2 separate regions of the Homo sapiens genome follow, and region 2 is linked to region 1. A link means that fine-mapping ties the variant in region 1 to the expression of a gene that starts in the linked region. Tissue or cell type: whole blood. Region 1 holds a variant in brackets; the other region holds the start of a gene. All regions are shown on one strand. Distances are from middle to middle.

The links. PIP is the estimated chance that this variant, and not a neighbour inherited with it, causes the effect.
Region 2: ZXDC starts here. The variant in region 1 is fine-mapped to the expression of ZXDC in whole blood (INTERVAL, PIP above 0.99).

What each region holds. Positions count from the first base shown.
Region 1 is chr3:126,440,824-126,449,002 of GRCh38, forward strand. ZXDC (ZXD family zinc finger C) reads right to left here. Exons shown (of 10, transcript NM_025112.5): 8 at 942-1,123. Among named protein-coding and RNA genes, the nearest start is that of ZXDC, 31 kb to the right of the region's middle. RefSeq lists enhancers at 420-1,055, 7,505-8,179. The variant G/A (reference allele first, on the strand shown) is at 3,432.
Region 2 is chr3:126,472,187-126,480,365 of GRCh38, forward strand. It overlaps ZXDC (ZXD family zinc finger C), which reads right to left and starts at 3,705. Exons shown (of 10, transcript NM_025112.5): 1 at 2,773-3,705; 2 at 1-119. The coding sequence starts at 3,679. RefSeq lists an enhancer at 2,052-2,577 and silencers at 3,135-3,394, 3,465-3,974.

The DNA.
Region 1 (8,179 bases):
GGCTGCCCCTCCTCTTGCCTCTCTGAGCCCCAGGCCTGGTCCTGTTTCCTTGGCGAGACTCTCCCAGGACTCTGAACCCACAAACGTGCCTGTTTCCCAACTCAGAGCCAGCGTCACCTCCACCCTCCGCACTTCCGTGGGGCCTGCAACCGCATCCCCTGCCACAGGGAATCTACAAAGTGGAGTGGTGAAGAGGGGCACACACCTGGGCCAAACCCAGACAGCCCCGGCTTGTATATCTCTTCTCTCCCCAAATCCTTCCAAATCATCTTCCCTCCCCATTCCAGCCCCTCAAACTGAGACTGAAGATGCAGGTGTGCTCAGGGCTGCTGAAGCAGGTGTGCTCAAAGACCTCCTGGAAACTGGCCACAGCTGCAGGTATCTGTGGCCCGGACAGGCTGGGAGGGGCCTGGGCCTGCCCTGGAGGGGCTCTGTTTCGTAGGAAAGAAAATAGAAAAACACTGAAAAGACCCCCACCACCTTCAGCATAGAAAGGCTGCTAGTGCGCCACAAGCAGGCCGCCCTAGAAATGGGGTGGCTGAGACGGCCTGCGGAGCCCTTTTGCCCCAGCCCTGCAGAAGAAGGGCAGGGTGGCCTCAAACAGATCTCATCCTGCTGCAAAACAGCCCTGGGGGCCTCGGGCAGGGAGGCGGGCTACTCTGGGGCTAGACGCAGGGCTGTGCACAGACAGGTTCAGGAAGTGGATGCACGGTCCCAGCAACACTCAGAGCTTGAGCAGATGCAGGACAGGCTGGGAAAAAGGGAGGAGCTGGGCTGTGAGGAGACAGGACTTGGGGCAGTCTACAGGGGAGGATGCACGAGGGGCAGGCAGGCAGGGGGTGCTGCGATGGGCAGGGGATGCAGCATGCCGCACACTGCTCAGACCTGCGTGACCCTCCCACCCCGCCTACAGCTGGCCTGTGTGACTGGCCAGCTCTCACCTGCACCAGCTGGACCTGGACGCCCTGCGCCCCGCACTGCACCCCAGCTGCTGGAGCTGGTCCTGGCCGTCCTCCGCTGGGCACCACGAGGCTCCCACACAACCAACTGTTCTGGCTTGCATGGAAATGGGGAGGACTCATTTTGCCTTCTTTTATTTTTCTCTGAGTAGACTGTGAGGCTCCTAAAATGAAATATAAAAACGAGCACACCCAATCTACAATCTACCAGTCAGGTCTGCCCTTACCAAGGTCTCACTATGGGGAAGACAGCCTTCCCATTAATTGTCATTCTGCACAGCTAAGAGACGTAAAATCACTTAACAGAAAAAATCAAGAGTTAAGAGGTTGAAACAAACAACCATACGAACAAAAAAACATCAGGATTTTGATTTTAAAAATGTAAAAACATCATACGTATTTTTTTGCCAGACGGTACGGTAATCAGACACAAGCTGCAAATTCTTGGAGAGCAGAATCCTCTAACTCCAGCAGCTGCTGGCTGGCAGGAATCCCAAGCGCAACTGAGGACAGCCAACAGCCCAGAGCCACAGCATCATGGAATAGGAAGGAAGCGGGCGGTCTCCATACCCCACCTGTGGGTGGACTGCTGCCTCTGTCCAGCTCCTTTCCAAGTCACTACTCCATGGGTTTTACAAATATGTGCTTCTTAAGAAATGAAGTAAAGCACAAAGAAAAAAGAAAAAATCTTAACACCCATAACAAACCCAAGAGCTGCTTCAAAAGGGCCCAAAGGTAGCCTAGAGCGTGCACTGCAGAGACCCCGGCTAGGCTCACCCTGACCCGCCACCCACTCTGCTCCAGGGATCTGGAAAAGGAACTCAAGCTCTGGGCCTCAGCATTATCTACCTGTAAAATGGGAATGCTAGTCCCAACCTCGGAAGGTTTTGGAGAGGATTTCATAGGAAATATGTGATCAAAACTTAGAACAGTGACTGGCGAGTGCCAAGGAGTTTAGGCACTGTCACTGCTCTGCCCACACATCCCTGCCTGGATGTGTGGGATCCAGCTATGAACGGCTTCAAAAAAACAACTGTACAATGACTATCATATAAGTTATTCCTAATAAAAGTATTCAATTGGGTGACCCTGCTGCCCAAGGCAGGCTGTTTTTACGAGGCTGTTTGACAGGAAGGTTCTGAGCAGCCCATGGGGTGAGAGCTGACTTGCCCTGCATATGCTGTCTCCCTGACCTGCTCACCTCACTCCAGATCCCTTCCTGTCTTCCGCAGTGCCCTGGGTCCCGGAGAGCTTCACACTCAGCAGGCAAGCCAACTGGGTGCACAAACCTTGGGTCCTCTGTACTTAGGCACAGCCTGCTGTCTTTTCTGGGTGCCTCAGGGCTCTTTTTCTTTGAAGTGCAAATGCTAACCAGGAGGTTTCTGGGTAACACAGATTCAGTTCCCCCTCACTGCAGGGAGATGCACTTCCATTACAAAATACTTCCTTTCTGTTCATCCATCAGTGTTCCAGAAAACCCAGCAACCCTCGCTCTGGATCATCTCTGACTGTTCTCCACGCCTGGTTTCTCTTTTTCTAATTGCTCTACTTGCTTCAGACAGAAGAGCAGGGCTGGGTCTGGGGCAAGAGAGGTGCCTGGGGCACAAAACTTACTCACCCCTCCTTGAGGAAACTTCACATCAGTTCCTAGTACTGCAGTCTATTAAGTCTGCAATAACATTATGTCTAAAACAATGCATACCTTAATTTAAAAATACTTTATTGCTAACAAATACCGACATAGACATGAAGTGAGAACATGCTGTTGGAAAAATGGTGCCAACAGACTTGCTGGATACAGGTTTGCCACAAACCTTCAATTTGTAAAAAGCAAAAAAAAAGTCAACTGCAAAAAATGAAGCGTGCCTATATCCTCCGTGAGCTTGTATACTATCCCACTTACCTCCAGAATTTTACCTGAATGCATTTCTATGCTTTCAAGTCTTTTATCACCCTAGCATATAAAAATATGTACATAAACTTAACTTTTATTTAACTTCTAGGCATTAACATTTTTGGTTTGAACTGTTACAACTGCAATTATTAGTAATGCAAAACAAATCAAAACAAAATATATCAGAAACTTTGATAGATAATTATGATATTAAAAGCAAAATTATATTAAAAATGCTTTTCAAGAGGAGTGGGACTGACTGGTGGTTTTCTTCCCCAGTTAGTTCATGTATTTGTGTCTAAATATTACTTCTTGCTAGAATTAGACATGGTCAGCATCTATTCTTGTCAATTAAAAACTTTTTTAAAATAAGATGCTCATGTGTCATCACAACTTTGCAGCTGCAGGTTGAGTTTATTCAAGTGAGGGGGAACTGCCTGCCCACGAAGCCCCAGCAGCAGGGCCGGTGCTGCAGCCAGAACAGTCGCATTACGCTTGCTTTCTAATAAAAGGCCTGGCTTCATTTTTAAATTCAAATAAAAATACTGAAACATGTTATTATATTAGAAATATTGGCC[G/A]GGCGCAGTGGCTCACGCCTGTAATCCCAGCGCTTTGGGAGGCCAAGGCGGGCAGATTACAAGGTCAGGAGATCGAGACCATCCTGGCTAACACGGTGAAACCTCGTCTCTACTAAAAATACAAAAAATTAGCCAGTGGTGGTGGCGGGTGCCTGTAGTCCCAGCTACTCGGGAGGCTGAGGCAGGAGAATGGCATGAACCCAGGAGGCAGAGCTTGCAGTGAGCCGAGATCATGCCACTGCACTCCAGCCTGGGTGACAGAGCGAGACTCCCTCTCAAAAAAAAAAAATAATAATAATATGAAAACCACTGTAGAATAAATTAAGGCAGGCAGTGAATAGTGTATCTCTCCAGATTTCTTTTAAAAGCAGGCAAGATTTTAAATGATGTATATCAAGTATTTATTATCAAGTTTTATAACATAAACAAGATAAAACTGAGCCATTCATCATGATTCAATGCCAAATGTGTACGCCACGCTCTAAGTTACCTACAAAGCAAGAAATATGACTGAATCCTAATATTCCTTTGCAAAATGTGTGCTAGAATGTATGTGCCATTCGAATCATGGGAAAATCAGAATTGGGTGCAAAATCAGAAATAATTCCACTAATGTTGCTAGACATGGTTACACTTTCCTTTTATACCTAAACCAGTAACTAAAATGATTCTATCTTTATTAACAATTTACTTGTATTACTTTTACAACAGGAAAAAAGATAGGCTGTAACGAGAATATCTCATGACAAGCTAAATTGGTTTCAACTTCTGTATCAGCATACAATATGAAAAAAAATCACAGGAATTTCTTTTCAATCCGCACATTTAATTCAGTGTCTCAGGTAGTCCTGTAGACACCAGTTACACTGAGAAGAAACACCACCACTAATTTGCATCAGAAGGTATTTTTCTTCCCAGCTAACAACTCGTCTAGGGATAAAAAGTCAATAGCTGAAAAGAATTGCTCACGCTTATACATACATAGGGCTCATTCCTGAAAAGTAATACATTCTTTGACAACAGCAGAGGGCTGGCAAAGGTGAGGACTTTCTACGAGAGATGTCCATCCATGCCCCACATCCCCTCTCTGATGTACCTCAAGCAGAACATCTCAGCGTCCACCCCTAGACACATCTCTGCACAGGAAGGGTAAGCTGGCAAGCCCGGCTCATTAAAGTTTTAATGTCGGTATTATTCTACAGGATGCTTCCCTGAAACCAGTATTTGGAACTGCCCCTGGGTTTGGTGCTCTGGAAGGATATCCTGTTTTTGTGTGCACTCCAAGGCAACACACTGCAGTAGAAGTCTGGTGGAGAGTTGCAGCCTCCCCGTTTTTTGGCAAGCAGAAGGACAGCTGTGGGTGAGGGGGAGAACCTGCCACAGATGAGCTCGGACACCCCTTCTCAGAGAGTCCGTTCCAGCAAGGACTGCACCTGGAAGATGAACCTGGAAAGGATGCAGGGGTCCAGGCCAACAGCTGTGAGAGAACAGGGCAGCCAGGGGAGGAGGGGCCAAGCCCCAGTTGCTGAGTTGTCCCCCAGGCCTGAGCAGGGTGTTCTGTCCTAGAATCCCTGACGGTACACCCTGAAGTCTGGTGGTATGTCGTGAACATTTAAGATGGCTGAAAGTTAATCATAAACTTCCTGGGTTAACTAAGCAAGTATGTTTATCTAGGGATGCTTAAGGACATGCCAAAGCAAACAAATGGGGTCCACACCACGTCCTCACGATAACCATGAAGCCCTGGGTCCTCACTAGTAAAGGGCGCCATGGCATCAAATGCAATATGATCAATTTAATTAATAAAGCAGTCACAAGAAAAATCAAATTCCTCTCTCACAATGGACAACCACAAACCCTTATAGAACAAGGTAACAACACCGAACTACATTTTGCTTCAATATTTTCAATCATTATCCAAAATGCTTGCTTGTGCTGGAGAATCTGCAGGAGTGGGGAGAGGAGCAGTATAAATCCAACACCAAGCAACCTCCTGGGAAGCAAGGAAGGACTCCTTAAGGAAGAGTCCTATCTAGGTATGATGGTAAATAGCAAAGTGGTCAAGGGCCCCGGCTTGGGAGCTGGACGATCCAGCTATGTGACTCAGCTCCCATCATCTGCGGTGAATGGAGATGGCCACACTGCTTTCACCTCACCGTGCCATGACGAGAATTAGGTGAGGTCAACAGCACTGGGCCTGGCTCAAACAGCATGCCATCCCCACACCAGTAGCACCGCAGTGCCTGCCACAGGACAGAGTTCAGAGCCAGCCAGGTGCCCCGAGAAAGGATCTGCACAGATGAGGCTCAGGCCCCTCCCTTGATAACCACAGGGGGTCATGCGAGCTTCCTCTACTGAGATCCTCACTTGAACAGGAGGTAAGTGACTATTTTCCCAATTCTCCCAAGGGTGGAAGATCAGAGGTCACTGGGGCTTAACTCACTAGGTCCCTGACATGGTTAGTTCAACACAGCTCTTATAAAGATATAATATGTTAATATACTTATCCACAAGGAAAAATATTCATATTAAGAACAAAAAGCAGATAAAAATGTTTATCATTTTTCAAAAACAAGTCATTTGTGTAGGTTTCAGATTTCACATTTGTGTAGGTTTCATTCAGTTTAACACTGAAACACTGTAAGTAGTTTTTCTTGGGTGGTGAAGCTACAGGGGAGAAAGCATAAGGAACCCACAATGATCTCTTCCAGAGTAAACCCACATGACCAGCCCTGCCTGTGCTGAGTGCTCACCCTTTGCTTAGGGATGTGCTGCTCACACGACAGGTCCTTTGTTCTGCAGGGGCACTCTCTCCTCCAGGGCATCTGGCAGGCCCTGAGTACCCGACTGCCTCCTCCCATCTCACAGCCTTCATGGGTATTCTCACCAAGCTACCTTCCCAGATGAACTTAAAGTAGACAGGTGTTTAAGTTACTCTGGGATTTTACAGGAACTGAATAAAGTATGTAAGTGAACAAGAATTGGGCATCTCTAGCTGGCAGACCCTACACAGGACCTTACCCATTCAGAGCACACTTGTCATGAGTGAGCCTGGCATATTTTATTACTTTTACTGTCATTATGAATAAGGTCAGTTTTTCACAATTATTCTTATTGGAAAATCTATTAATTTTATATATACAAATATGTACTGTGCAATTAGCTATCTATTGATCCTTCTTATTTCTAATTGCTTGAGTTGATTCCCCTGGGTTTTCTAAGCCTGACAATGACTTTGTCATTAAGTAATCATCATTCTCTCCTTTCTATTTGATTCTGCTTCTTTAAAAATAGAGACTTCCATAAAAGTGTCAAATAGATTGCGCCAATGGTTTGGTTTACCATTCCTCCAGCTTTGGGGGGATGCCAACATCTCTCCACTGAAAATGCCACTGACAGCTGGCTGCTCTCTAGTATTAGGGAAATCTGGGTTCCTAGTTGATTCATATTTGTGATGTTTTCAAATCAGTAGCAGGTGATGAATGTCATCAACTGCCCTGTTCGGCCTCTGTGGACCCTGCACGTCTCTTGCGGCATTTGCTGTGGCAAATCATGCTGACAGGCTGCCTCGCCCCACATCACCCTCGCCCGCTGTCCATGTGCTGGTATTTCACTTGGGATTCCCATGCCTGCTTCACCTGCTGGAGGTGAGACACAGTGTTCCTGCATACCACGTGGCCAACAGGCTCAGTAACAGCTCTGAGGGCAGCCGGCCTTGGGTTCAATCCTGCCGCTGCCCCTGCCCCTACCAGCTATGCAGCCCTGGCTGAACTCTTCCTGCCTCAGCTTTCTCATCCAGAAAGGTGGGGACACGAGGACCTACACCTCACAGGATTGTTGCGAGGACTAATGGGGTAATAGATGTAGATGTGCTGGGCTTAGAACTGTGCAGGGCACACCGTATGTCTTCAATAGTTATCACACCTTTGTCAAGTTTTAGAACCAGGGTATGTTAGCTTTATACATTAAATTATTAGCTTTTATTTGAGGTCTGCGCAAGTTTCATCACCCATTCAACAAGTATGTACTGTATCTTCACCACATGGCAGGTGCTCGGCCAGATGGTGGCCCTGCACATGGAGCTTACAGCTGCTGGCTGGTGCGCTCAGTACAGCCGTGCATTTTGCAGCACACAGACAAACCCACAATAGATGAGCAACAAGGGGTGAGAAAGTACAGGGTACCCTGGGAGCCTCGAGAGGCCACTGACAGGACCCCAAAGTGTCTGTGACACAGACACCACCCTTGAGGAGCTAATCACAGAGGGGACCCTGCCTAGAACACTCTGGGCATTCCACACAGGCATCCCGGGCAGGCACCAGGGCATGGCACGGCCATGCACTAAGAAGCAAGCACCAGAGACCAGCACGTCGTGGGGCTGCCACCCCTAGGGCTGGAGGGACTAGGGAAGGTGTGGCGTCACCAGAGTCCAGAACAGGGACAGCGTATAGCAGAACTACAGCAGGGGCCACCCAGGAAGAACTGGGGCCACAGCCATGAGGGTAGACGGCCATCGCCATGAAACTCCCACGGAAGCAGAGCAAGTGAGGCCCTGCCTCGCTCCACACACCCTCTAATCTCCCCCTAATGTTCCCACTGCCAAACCTGGCTGGAAGCGCTGAGAGGAGCCTGGGTCAGTGTCTCCAAGAATGCGAGTCAGACAGCAACGGCCAGCATCCACACGGCAGGAGGTGCAGGAACTGCCTGGGGAGACGGGACGGGGCAGCACGCAGGCAGGGCAGGTCCAC
Region 2 (8,179 bases), 31 kb after region 1:
GGCTTTATCATACTGCTTGCTGCACCCAGGAAAGGAGCAGGAAAAGAGCTCTTGTTCCCTGAAGTGGGCTCGGTTATGGGAAAACAGGGCACTCACTGTGATAAATGTCTTCTCACAGCCTGAACAAGGAAAACACAAACCCTGCTCAAAGCGTGGCAAAAATTATACAACATAGCTAATGCTAGTCACACCCACCAGACCCTGTTCACACTGAAGCAGACAAGGGAAAACATGACTCAGAAGCACTCTCTAAAAAGGGAAGACCATTAATGCTTGGCTTTGTGATCACCACAGGAAGGCAGCTAATGGCAGCCAATAGGCACACGCTGGCCACCTGTTGCAACATGACTTGGAGATGGAGCAACCGATAAAGAGAAAGTCCTCCGTTCACAGCCATCTACTGGCCGGCTCCGGAGCACTGATCCTGCACACACACTGAGACCCAAGAACCCCATGAGAGAAATCAAATACTAAGGAACAAGATTTTGTCTGGTAGGGTTGATCTTTGAAAGGCTACAAATCATCCTACTAGCCAGGATTTTTCACCCCTTGGGGGTGATGCTGCATCCTCTACATATCCAAATTTCCTCCCTGACACCCTCCAACTGCCAGCCCTGTCCCTTGCTGTTTGGATTCTTTTTCCTTTCGCAATTTCCTTAGGTTCCCTGCTTTGTAATCTTCACCTCAATCCTAACCCCTGGCCAAAGCAGCTAAGCCTCAACAATTCCACAGCAATACTTCTCCTCCGACAGAAACATTCAGGGCTCCAACAGGGTGGAAAACATGAGGCTGCAGGATGTTTAACAGGAGTCTTTGCTGCAGCTCCTCTTGGAGCCTTTAACGAGATACTATCATGCCTATGAACTGCCACACAGATGTACATGGCATAGCACTGCCCAAAAGTATCAGCCCAAGGAACCCTACTTTCCCCAGCAACATCTAACTCAGAAATGCTGATCTTTGGCCTCAATCTGGTCCCAAAATACCTCCAGGGTATTTTGGGCTTCGGTGTGTTCACACACTTGGTCATGTAAATCTGAACACAGACTCTCTCTGCCTTGGCAAGAACCCCCCACACCCCCATAGATAATTACACCCTTTGGTTCTCCCTCTGCAATCTCACCTGCTAGAGACCCTCATCATTCCCACTCCCTGGCTCAGGCCTTCAGAAAACTCAGGTCTGGGCCCTTTGATGATGCTTCCCTGGTCCTGCTCCTGCTTCTAAACATCTAATCTCATCTAACCATCTAATCTCATCTCAACACAAGAAGCCTCATGGATCAGCCAACACAAAACCCTCAAGAGACCTCATGCCTGGAAGCAGGCGGGATCCCTGACCTTCCCAGTGTCATACACAGAATGATACTCTTTTAGCAGGGAAAGGGTCTACAGCCACCATCAGATTCCCAAGAGTGTATGACTGAAAAAGACTTTGAGCTAGTGGCCTCAAGCCACATTCTCTCTGAAGAGGAATGCGCAAGACAGTCCACAGGCATATGCGAGGGAAAAAATAATAAAACCCGTTCATAATTCTCATCTCATCCTTTAAAAATTCTTGTTTAAGGACATTATAAGGAGAGCCGTGTGCATATACAGGTTAGGGGCATGCTAGGCACACATTCCAGTTTCTGTTTGAATGACTGGTCCTTCCTCCTGGGCCCTCACCACAGACCACAATCCCCACCTGGGCTCTGCCACCCAGCCGACTCCATTCTTCTGCCTTTCCAGGGAGGAATCCTTTCTTGCCCTTCTGGAGGAACCCTATCCCTGTGAAAGCAGGGAAAGCTGCCCATCCTGGTGAAGAGCTCACTGTGTTGGAGTCCTACATTCCCAACAACTGCAGGTCAACACACAGGAGAAAGAACAGGCAGTGGACTTTTTTTTTTTTTTTTTTTTGAGACGGTGTCTCGCTCTGTCGCCCCGGCTGGAATGCAGTGGCGCGATCTCGGCTCACTGCAAGCTCCGTCTCTGGGGTTCACACCATTCTCCTGCCTCAGCCTCCCGAGTAGCTGGGACTACAGGCGCCCGCTACCACGCCCGGCTAATTTTTTGTAGTTTTAATAGAGACGGGGTTTCACCGTGTTAGCCAGGATGGTCTCGATCTCCTGACCTCGTAATCCGCCCGCCTCGGCCTCCCAAAGTGCTGGGATTACAGGCGTGAGCCACCGCGCCCAGCCACCAGCAGTGGACTTTATCCACAAGGCTCGGCCTCTGTCTCTTCATCTGTAAAAGAGGACAGTTTTTAACCTTCACAGACGGCTAATTTTTAAAACTTCACAAAACTGTGAGGTTCAACGGAAATCAAAGTGCAAAAGGCAAAAAAAGCCAGGATGTGCGCACACCTGTGGCTATCCTCCCAGCGTGTTAAGGTCCTGAATCTGGCCACATTCATCTCTGCTCCTCTAGCACGGAGTGTGCACCCCGTAAACAAATGACGAGACTGAGGAAAATAAAGACCTGACACATAGCTCCGTGCCACTCTGTGAAGATGCGTGCCGCTTTCATCAAGCACAAGCAGGTTAAGGATATCTGTTGCCGCCACCTTTGGGAAGCGCAGCTGTGGTGATCTGCGCTACCTGCCATCGGAATCCCTGCGGCAGGGCAGGGCCAAGATCTCAAATCGAATGACATGGAAGGAGCTAGAATACAAATCCCGAAGAGCCTGCGTCCCCGGCTTGCTAAGGTCTGGCAGGCCCCTCTGTGGGGCGGACGTGGCACCCCAGACCTGCCTGCAACACCGCGCAGCCCGCCCGCCCCCGAGAGCGCGGTTACCGGGAAAGTCACACTTGTAAGGGCGCTCGGGCTCGAAGTGGCTGCGCTGGTGGGAGCTGAGCTTGGCGTGCGTGGGGAAGCGCTCGGCGCACACCTCGCACTTGAACAGGCTCTCCTGCTCGTGGCCCTTCATGTGCGCCTTGAGGTTATAGACCGTAGTGAACTTCTTGCCACAGCCGCCCACTGGACAGCCGAAGGGCCGCAGCTTGTCGTGCGACTGCAGGTGCCGCTTGAGCTTGTAGGACGTTGTGAAGGCCCAACCACAGCCCTCCAGTGGGCACTTGAAGGGCCGCCGGCCCTGACCGCCGCCGTGCGTGAGCAGGTGCACCTTGAGCTGGTGCTTCTTGGCGAAGGCCAGCGCGCACTGCGGCTCGGGGCAGCGGTAGCCGGGCGTGCTGGGGCCGGAGGCCTGGGGCGCGCGGCGGGGAGCGGCGGCGCCCGCGGTTGCGGGGCCGGGCGGCGCAGACAGCGCGAGGACGCCGCGGTCGAGACGCACCAGCAGGTCCTGGCTGCTGATGGTGACGGCGCCCGCCGGGGCTACGCCAGGGCCGGGGGGGGCGGCCGGGCCGCTGGGGCCCTGCTCGGGGCGGCTCGCCAGGTTGACACGGGAGCCAGGCTCGGCCTCCTGTGATCCGGCAGCCTCGGCGGCAGCGCCGCCGTGCGGCACTTCCAGCAGCACCAAGAAAGAGTCGCCGTCGCTGTCGTCCTCGGCGGGCGGCGGGCTTGGCCCGGAGGCCTCCCCGGGCCGCGCCCCGGGCCCGCCATCTTCAGGGCCCCGCACCAGTAGCAGGCGGCGGCGCGCGGGGCTCGCGCCGAGCGGCGCTGGGGCTCGGCGGAGCGGGCCGGGGCCGCCGCCATGTTGCCCTCCGCGCGCAGTCGGGGCGGGGAGCAGCGCCGGGAGGTCCATCTTGGTCCCAGCGACGGCGTCGGAGCAGCTTCGGACGCAGAGCTGCCCGCGCCCCGCCCAGGTGTGCGTGCGCCGCCCCGGGACGCGATCCGCGCCAAGCCCCGGCGTAGAGTCCGGCTCGGAACCGCGCGTGCGCGGACGCCGCCGGGCGATGCGCGAGGCCTGCTGGGCTGACGTGACGTGAGGCTGGGCTGCGGGGCGCCGGAGGCGGAGGCGGGGGCGGGGCGCCGGGACCGACTAGGGCGGGGCGCGGGGTCGGGGGGCGGGGCGCGGGGTCGGGGGGCGGGGCGCGGGGTCGGGGGGCGGGGCGCGGGGTCGGGGGGCGGGGCGCGGGGTCGGGGGGCGGGGCGCGGGGTCGGGGGGCGGAGCGCCGGCACCTACGAGGGCGAGCGGCGGGGCACGGGACCGACAGGGGACGGGGTGAGGCTCCCAACGCTGAGCGATTCCTTCTCGTTCCCGCTGGCGTGGAAGACGAGGCTTGTCTTGACTTCGAATCGTATTAATATTTCAGACACTTAACAGGCAACCTCTCGTAGGCATTGACTGCGTCCCAGGGGCTGTACCTGTCCGAGCTGATTAAGCGTGCGCGGTCACCCAGGGGTGAGGAAACAGGGACGGCGAGCTCGAGTCACTCGGCAGCCGGCAGATCCAGGATTCGAACCTGTCCAACAGGCCGGACGCCTACCCCCAGCTCACTTAAGTGCAAGCTCGCCTGCCGCCGCTGGCGCACAGACCTCGTTTGCTTTGGCCCAGGTCCTTGCTCGGCACACGGGGCCTCCCTGATACGCAGGACCCCTGCCTGTATTTCCAACTGTATTTCCTACTAAACTTGGCACAACCTCACTCTGCAACAGCTTAATTACTTACTGTTTCCGGTCCTCACCCTCCCCCACCTCACCGTACACCTCCGCATTCAATCTGGACTCCTCCACTTCAACTTCACCACCACTCAGATCCAAACCCGCACTTTATTCCTGGGTACCTGAAAAATAACTACTAGCTGGTCATCGGTCTCCCTCCGCTCCACTCGCTCCCATCCACGGGGCACCGTTTTATGATCTAAAAATTGCACATCAAATTATGCTCACCTCCACCTTGCTCCCGAAGGCGCCTATGGCCTTGCTAGTCTACCCTCCCCTACCTGTTTGCCCTCACTTCCCGCCACTCTCCCGCTGCCCCCCCCACCCCTCCCCCGCACCCCACCTCTTTTTCCCAGTTCATCCAGCAAGCCAAGCTGGTTCCAGCCTCAGAGACTTGGCGCAGCTGATCTCTGATTCCTCTGGGAGGACTCTGCGCCCCTTCTGATCCAAAGCACATGCTTACCCAGTCCCGTATTCCCACCTCTGTCTGATCTGTTTGCTCTTAGAGCTCTCATCACCCGTTGTTTTGTTGAGTTCCTTCCCTGCTCCTTCACTGTCTCTCCCTCTCTGGAATGTAGGCTCCTGGAGCCCAGGAACTGTGTCCTATTCACTGTGTGTGCCCAGGAAGACTCTTGGTGCATATTTGTTAAATACATGAATGCTTTATTATTAAGAGTATTTTTTTAAGTAACACAAATTATAATATTAAAAAGAATAGGATACATCTATTATATATATCAGTTTATGCCGAAAACATATTGTTCCTAGACCATTCAGTAGAGGAAAGAATAGTCATTTCAATAATGGCGGCACTGGGACAACTGGATCTCCACATGCAAAAGAACCAATTTGGACGTGTATCTCTCATCAGAGGCAAAAATTAACTCAAATTAGAGCAAAAGCCTACACGTAAGACATAAAACTATTTGAAGAAAAGTAGGTGTAAATCTATGTGACCCTGGATTAGGGAATAGTTTCTTAGATATAATATTGAAAGCACAAGAAAGAAAAATAGATAACTTGGACTTCATCAAAATTAAAAACTTACTCAGGTAAAAGGACACCAATAAGACAGTGAAAAGACAACTCAGAATGGGAGAAGGGTGTGCAAATCGAATATCTGATAAGGATCTACTATCTGGAATATATAAAGAACTCTTAGCAAGAAGACAAACAGTCCACTTTTTTAAAAGGCAAAGGTTTGAATAGACATATTTCTCCAAAGAAGATAATACAAACAGCCAATAAGCAAATAAAAAGAGGCTCAACATCACGAATCATTAGGGAAATGCAAATCAAAACACAGTGAGATACAACTTCACACCTACTCAAATAGTGGTAATTTTTTTAAAAACAGGATATAGAAAAATTGGAACTCTCACATATGGCTGGTGGGAATGTATAACGTTGCGGTGTGGAAAACAGTTTGGCAGTTCTGCAGAAAGCTAAACATAATCTCCACATGACCCAGCAAGTCCATCCCTGTGTTGCTGAGGCTGGAGTGTGGTGGCTATTCACAGGTGCAATCATAGTGCGACCTCCAACTGGCCTCAAGCAGTCCTTCCGGGTCAGCCTCCCAATTAACTGGACTACAGGCATATGCCACCATGCCCAACTTGTTGCGCAGCATTGATTATGCCACATTCTCGTGATCAAAGAAGTCATAAGACACTGCAGACCCAGGCAAGGGGAACTTGTACTCCACCTCTCAATGGGAGGTGCTGGAAAGAATTTGCAGCCATTTTTAAACTATCACAACTTCTCTGTGCCTCAGTTTCCTCATGTGTAAAATGAAGGGGACTGAGAAAGAAAAAGGGCAGCCCCTGCCATCCAGAAACTGGCCGGGTGCTACAGCTGGGCCACTCTGTTCTGTAAGACTTGAACCATCACGCAGAAAACCAACCTAGGCCAAGGTCACTGAAACACAATGACATGAGACAAAGCAAGGCCACTTCATGATGTGTCTCCACCCAGATAAAGCGAGGTCACTTGCTGTGCCATTTACAAGATACCCAGCAGCCCCTCTCTCAGCTAACGTGAGCAGCCGCCGCTTTTGTACCCCTGACAGCCTGTCTGTCTGTGTGCTTCCCTCTCTGTATATAGGATTTAGTCAGAAACCTAGTCATGGTGTTGACCCGATTTCTGGTAAGAGCCAATCCAGAGCAAATCCCCGCTTCCTAAGACTCCCCCACCCAACCAAAGCTCAAATCTGATACTAGGTTGTTTCAGATACTAGGTTGTTTCAGCCTTCTGCTGAGATACCCTGAAAGGAGCAACAGGACTCCTGGCGAGGGTCAGACGCGCCACTTCACCAGGTGGGCTTGAGTCAGCTCAATGTGGTCATCCAGTGGGGCTCAGGCAGAGACTTGAACTTGGTAGTCTCAAAGGAGTGCCCCAAATTACAAGGACCACAGAGATTGTGCCTTGGCCAGCCAGACCTGTACTCTCCAGGCTGTGTGGAAAGGATTTTGGAGAAGCCAGGGGAAGGGACGCAGATGACACACGCATGCACGCTCAGATTTATTTGTGTCTGGGGAGAAATCCCATCAGCCCAGGTATCGCTGGATGTCCAGCACCTCTTTTGGGCTAAAAGGCATCATGTGGATCTTGAGATTGCTAACAGAGAAGTGTCCAGGATTCCCAAATTTTGATGGGAGTGGGGATGAGGTTCACTGGGAGCAAAAGAGCATCTCTTTGTCAAAGGTCACAAGTTCAAATCCCAGCAGAGGTCATACAAGTCACACAAATGTGGGAGACAGGTGGGCACAGGAAACATAGACTCTCATGCCAAGGGACAAACAGCATACACGCTCCGCCTCACCATGGGTTCTGTAGGGACTGGAAGGGACTGTGGCCAAGTGCAGAGAGCTAGGCCAGCCCAGAGGGGCCCCCAGCAAATCACTGCCACAGAGGTGGTGAGAACATGGTGTTACCTTATATCTTGATTTTCAAAAAATAAGCTCTGGATTTCTCCCAATTTGTAAACATTGGTGACAAAGTCAAATTTTTTTAAAAACAGGACAGACCAAACAAAACACAACTGCAGGCTGAGTGTAGTGCTGTGCTCCTGTGGTCCCAGCTACTTGGGAGGCTAAGGCAGGAGGATCACTTCAGCCCAGGAGTTCAAGGCTACAGTGAGCCATGATTGCACCACTGCACTCCAGCCTGAGTGACAGAGCAAGATCCTATTTCTAAAAAATATATAAATAAAACATAACTGCAGGTCATGCCCGGCCCACAGGCCCCTGTGTGGTTGTCTACTCTGGGAAAACTGGAATGGGAGAGTGCATCACTCAGCCAGGCCCTCCCTCCCTGACCTTGGCTTGCCAGCAAGGAAAGCATACAGTTCCCAGGGACCCTGGGTTTGCAGAGAGCAGGCGCTGCCCAGGGGGAGGACCCTAATGCTGTACTGCAGGGCCTGAGCCTTTCTCACCTCCAACTCTTAAGGCAACTGAACCCTACACTCATCATGGCCAACTGGTTTCTCTTTTAATCATTTTGATGAAAACATTTCTAACTGGACTATACATCCTTGCCTTCTGAAAAAGAAGATGGCACTGGGCACATCAGAAGCCACGCTGTTCCTTCCATGGCGACTACAGCTGTGACCAGCTGCCCCAATTCCGCTGTGAGCCCCGTG